2 separate regions of the Homo sapiens genome follow, and region 2 is linked to region 1. Evidence: fine-mapped expression QTL. A gene starts in region 1. The other region holds a variant in brackets. All regions are shown on one strand. Distances are between the middles of the regions. Region 1 holds the start of CYP24A1 (cytochrome P450 family 24 subfamily A member 1). Region 2 has its middle 320 kb from the start of LINC01440.

Region 1 (2,903 bases):
TTTAAGGGATAATTTTGTTTGTATAAGATGTTTGCCTGGTACGCTGACTTCAGAACCTCATCCTGCCCAAGAGTCTGAACACCACAGTTGGTACAACCCTGTTTTGGCGTTTCTTTGATGGGAGGGTGTGGCCCTGCCCTGTTGCCAGAGAGAACGCAGGTGCTGGGTGCACAGCACGGCTTTTCCGTGGACCGACTCTAATCTGTACAAGAGCTCAGGGTTGCGATGGCACGGGAGAGGGGCTTTGGTATCCGCCCTACGTAAGAAGCTTCCAACCCCAGGGAACTCTAACTCCGCCTCTTCACAATTTCCAGGCGCCGTCAGGCTCATCAGGTCTGGCCGCATGCCCAGGTCCCTCGGATTGGACTCACAGGATCAGCAGCCCGTAGCCTTCTTTGCGGTAGTCGCGATAGGCCTTCCACGGTTTGATCTCCAGCCGCTGCGGGTACGCGCTCTCGGTGCGGTACAGCGCTTCCAGCAGGCATGGCGAGCCCAGGTGCACCGACTCAAAGGAACCCAACTTCATGCGGAAAATCTTGCCATACTTCTTGTGGTACTCCACCTGCAGCCGGCCGGGCACAGCGCGGTGTCAGCGCGCATCCTCCGCCGTGCCCGAAGCGCTTTCCCTCCTCCCGCCTCCTTCCTCCTAGGGGACCGGGGACCCTCCCTGCCCAGACGCCGAAGCGCACCATGCGCCCGAGGCGCGCATGTCGGGGAGGGTTTGGAGCGCCACTGGGAGGGCGGAAGAGGGAGGAGAGAGTCAGGGGCGCGAAAAGGGGTTTACCAGGGTGTCGTGCTGTTTCTTGAGACCCCCTTTCCAGAGAATCTGCAGCAGGCTGCCCAGCAGTGGCCAGCTGGTGGGGCCCGGCAGGGCGGCCGCGTTCTGAGTCTCGCCACCAGCTGTCAGCGGGCAGACTGGCACCTCTCGCGGCTGAGGGGACGTGTACGCCGTAGATGTCACCAGTCTCGGGGGCTGCCTCGGACTGCGCAGCTGCTGCAGGAAGGCGGCAAGCGAGCGGCTCTTGCTGATGGGGGAGCTCATGGCAGCGGGGGACACCGGAGCGCGGGAAGGCAGGAGGATGGGGTGGGGCGAGGTTGGTACGAGGTGCTAGTGGGAGTCGGGGCTTAACGATTCTGGGAAAAGGAAGCAAAGAGGGCCAGCTGGTGTGATGGAGCGGGGTGAGGCGGGACAGGCAGCAGAAAGGACCTCGGCGAGGATGCTCGACGCTGCACCACGCGACAGCCTCAGAGCATTGGTGCCTCCTTGCACTGGCCGCAGGGGCTGGAAGAGGGTGGCCGGTGTCTGGGGACCTCTTGAAAAGGGAAAGCTGGGAGTCCTCCTGTTGGTCCGCAAGGCTGACCTCTAGGGTCTGGCTGGAGCCACGGGGAGGTGTCAAGGAGGGTAGATGAGATGCTGCTGGCGCTGCGTTTCCTCCTGTCCCTCTCCATGTTCCTATGCCCAGGGACCATGCATTTATGGAGACAGAGCATGCCCTGGGTGGCCAATGAGCACGCAGAGGAGGGCGGAGTGGCCCCCGGCTGGCCAGACTCCGAGGGACGCGGGACCCAGGGGAGGGGGGGTGGAAGGAGGATGGAGTCAGCGAGGTGAGCGAGGGCGTCCGGGCCTGGGGTGACCGGGGCTATGTTCGCTGGGCGCGGGAGGTGGGGTGGGGGCGGCAGACTCCACCCCGGAGATAACCCCCAGGAAGTCATGCGAAGCCCGGAGTTCACCGGGTGTGCTTCGAACGCGCCTCCCCGCCCTCCCCCGGCGGGCAGGAGCCGGCAGCGGCGGCCGTGGTTGCCGCCCGGCGCTTGCACAATCGCGATGCCGGGCGGGCGAGGTCCCCGAGTGCGGGCCCAGAAAAGCTGCCGGCGTCTGCCAGGGCCCCGGGGAGCCCGGGCGCCTCCCGGGGAGCCAGATACCCCCAGCCTGGACTGAAGTGATTTTTTTTTTTTTTTTGCCTTTTTTTTTTTGGAGGAAGTTTGGCTTTCTGCGCCTCCCAGGGTGGGGAGGATTTGAGTCTTACTGAAATGCACCAGAAGAGGAGACTTTCTTAACTTGAGCAAGAAGGGGAGTTTGTAGAATTTCCTTCCTGCTGTTTCATGTTTGGTTGTTTTGCAGATTAAATGAATTAATGCACGTAAAGCGGCAACAACGAAGCCTTGTCTATAGTCAACAGTCAATAAAAGTTAGTTGCTGTTGTTACTTCTTTAGGAAGTTAGGAAATGCGCCTTGAGAGCGTGGCTTGCACCAACGATGCTTGAATTCAGGCTGGGCCACCTCCCCTATGTCCACTGCCCGCCTCTGTTCTTCTACACCGACTACCTTGTGCAAAGGAGGGGCACACAGAGCTTGAAACCACCGCCCCCAGTACTCCCCCTCTCCCCCAAGGTGCGTCCTAGGCAGGTCCAGTGACAAACATACACAATTTCTAGAGTTACCGCGGCTGGCAAGAGTAGAACTCGCTTTGCTAATTCAGGAACGGAAGTTGGAGATTTTTGTTGATTGTTTTAAAGTGGCTCGAATCCTTTCAACCTGATCCAATACAAAACTACCACCAGCCAGGGAGGAGGGGAGGGACATTCTGTTTCCTCGCCCTGCTTTTCAATTACGTGTCTCAGTCATTTTTGCCCCAAGTGTTGGCAAATCCTTCCCTGGTAAATTCTTTTGTAAGCCTCTAGTTTGTTTCTTAAAAATCTTTTGCAGTCCAACTTAAGCTTTAACACCATCATTTCTGATTTGTCTGGAGGGGCTAATGACTGTTTATGTTAATAAAAATAATAGCTATTGATATATACTAAACTTTATGAATCTTGTACATATTTATATATACATTGTATGGTATATATGTTACAGCATACACTATAGATTATGTTATATGCAATACACACTAAATATACAT
Region 2 (2,903 bases), 930 kb after region 1:
CACTTAGTGGAACATATAGGGGAAAAAACATCTATTCCATCTTCCCAGAAGGAGAAGTCCCAGAATATTTTTGTAACCTAATATTGGAAATGACATTCATCACTTTTGCTCCATTCTGTTATTTGGAAGTAAGTCACGGGCTACAGCTTACACTCAAGGGATAGTTTACCACAAGTATATAGGGGCACAAGTTCCAGAAGGTGAGGGTCATTGAGCAGTCTCAGAGGTTGCCTGTTGCAGGTTTGCATGTGTTCAGCTGAGTGGATATTGTGTGTAATTTCCTCAAAGTTTGTGCTAATTTCTATTAATTAGCTGGAGAATAAAAGATTGAAGCTGGCCAGGATTTATATTAATTAGCCAGACAATAAAAGTTTGAAGCTGTCCAGGATTGGTTCTTGAGGTTTCAGGAAAGAAGCCATCTCCAAAACATGATAGTGCAAGGTGATGCAGCAAGTATTGACGGAGAAGCTGCAGCAAGTTATTCAGAAGCTCTAGCTAAGATCATTAATGAAGGTGGCAACACTAAACAGCAGATTTTCCATGTAAATCAAACAACCTTATAGTGGAAGAAGATGCCACTGAGAACTCATTACAGAACTATTGTGTTCCTTTGAAGGTGTCAGTGTTTCCATGCTTTTCCATGTTCCCTGTGTCCTTGCATTGGTATCTGCACATCTGGTGTAACTGGTATGATTTGGCTGCATCCCCAGCCAAATCTCATCTTGAACTGTAGCTCCCATAATCCCCACATGTTGTGGGAAGGACCTGGTGGGAGGTAACTGAATCATGAGGGCAGATTTTCCCGTTTTGTTCTCGTGATAGAGAATAAGTCTCACAAGATCTGATGGTTTTACAAAGGGCAGTTCCCCTGCACATGCTCTCTTGCCTGCTGCCATGTAAGACCTGCTTTTGCTCCTCCTTCACCTTCCACCATGATTGTGAGGCCTCCCTAGCCAAGTGGAGTTGCAAGTCCATTAATCTCTTTTTCTTTATAAATTCCTAAGTCTCAGGGTATTTTTACATAGCAGTATGAAAATGGACTAATATGCTGTCACTTCTTTCAATTTGATATTATAGCTTCCATGGGGAAAGTCTCTCTTTTGGATGAACCTATAATGTTGATTTGGTAAGGTGCTTTGCTTTGGTACTGGTTGGGCCCCACAGTATAGTCTCCTTATGATTACTTTGGTTGTACTCATTGTTAACAGTGTCTGCAAGTTCCTTAGTAGCTTAGGCTTCTATTGTTTATGGAGGCCGTGGTGAGTCTTTTCAGGGGACAGGGTTGCAGAGCAGGCCAGTTTTCAGTCCCCAGGTAGGGAGTTTGGGTACAGGTGGTAGTG[G/A]TGGTGGTGGTGGTGGTGGTTGCAGGCCAGGTGTTACAGTCCTGGGGTCCCTGGAAGGCAGCATGCATGGGCTCCAGCAGTGTCCTTGGTGGAGCAGGCAGGCTGGCTCCCTGGTCCCTGGCTGTAGGTAACGAGTGAGTAGTGGCCCAGCTGCTGGAGGTGATGGGGTAGCTGCTGTAGTGGTAACAGTGGATGGGCTGCTCTCAGGCTGGGGAGCACACACTTTGTTCCCTGTGTCCTGGGGGCACCTCCCTGATATGCTAAACCACTTGCTTACTGGCACATAGGCAACAGCATGGGCTCTGCTGCCAATATCTGGACAGTACCACTGGGTCCAGCCAGCGGCGCTCTGCAGCCCTAAGAGTGGAGGTAGAGAGTGTTGTGAGGCCCCAGGGATGTGGAAAGCAGGGGCTTTTGGGCCCCAAGGCAGGATGTAGTTCACTGTTGGATCTGCTGTCAAAATAACGCTGTGTTGCTCTCTCTGGAGCAATGCAGTCACGTGGACTCCCGACATCCCACTATACTGGGCTCAGGGTCCCTGGCACCCAGGGAATTTCCTGCAGCTAGGACTGTGGGAATCTGCAGCAGGAATGTGCACTGCTGAGGATCTTTCACTTACCCCTCCCATGAAATAGGGAGCCTCTTCCTTCCCAAATCAATCTGGTCAGCTGCCTCACTGGGTCTGAAAGCCACAGAAATGTCCCTTACCTACTGGATTCCAGCATTCTCTCGAAATGTCCTACTGGATGTACCTTTGTCTACTTACTGTTTTAGTCTCTCTTTGTGCAGGAGTCAAGCACTGAGAGCCTCTGTTTCACCATCTTGATGATGTCTTGCAATTTAGCAATTTTATTGATCTTTTCAAGGAAACAGTTTTTGTTTCTGTTAATATTCTCTATTGGTTTCCTATTTTCTATTTCATCACTTTCTGCTCCAATTTTTGTTATTTATTTTCTTCTGTTTGCTTTAGGTTTATATTACTCTTCTTTCTCTACTATCCTTAGACGGAAGCCTAGATTATTGATTTTAGACCTTTCTTTTTTTCAATATATGCATTCAAGATAAATGAATTTCCACCTAAATTTCCACCTAAGCACTGCCCCCCCTTTTTTTTTTTTTTTTTTGTATGACACTCACTCGGGTAAGTTGTATTTTTATTTTCATTTAGTTCAACATATATATTTCCCTTGAGACCCTTCTTTGACCCATGTGTTGTTTAGTAGTTACTTATTCTCCAACTATTTGCAGTTTTCCAGCTATCTTTTTGTTGATACATAATTTAATTCCATTGTTGTCTTAGGGTATGTTTGGTATGATTTCCATTAAAGAAAATTGTTTTGATGTGGCTCATGGCCTTGAATGTGATCTGTTTTGGTGAAGCCTTCCAGTTCGTTGGAGAAGAATGTGTATTCTGCTGTAGTTGGAAGAAGTTATCCATAAACGCCAATTTGATTCAGTTGTTGTTGATGCTGCTCAGTTCAACTATGCCCGTACTGATTTTCTACCTGACCTGTCCATTACTGATGGGGGATGTTGAAGTCTCCAACCATAATAGTAGAAGTT

The links. PIP is the estimated chance that this variant, and not a neighbour inherited with it, causes the effect.
Region 2: its variant is fine-mapped to the expression of CYP24A1 in whole blood (TOPMed, PIP 0.94).

Annotation. Positions count from the first base shown.
Region 1 is chr20:54,172,538-54,175,440 of GRCh38, forward strand. It overlaps CYP24A1 (cytochrome P450 family 24 subfamily A member 1), which reads right to left and starts at 1,449. Exons shown (of 12, transcript NM_000782.5): 1 at 785-1,449; 2 at 372-562. The coding sequence starts at 1,042. RefSeq lists an enhancer at 1,079-1,672.
Region 2 is chr20:55,104,665-55,107,567 of GRCh38, forward strand. No RefSeq gene overlaps it. Among named protein-coding and RNA genes, the nearest start is that of LINC01440, 320 kb to the right of the region's middle. The variant G/A (reference allele first, on the strand shown) is at 1,341.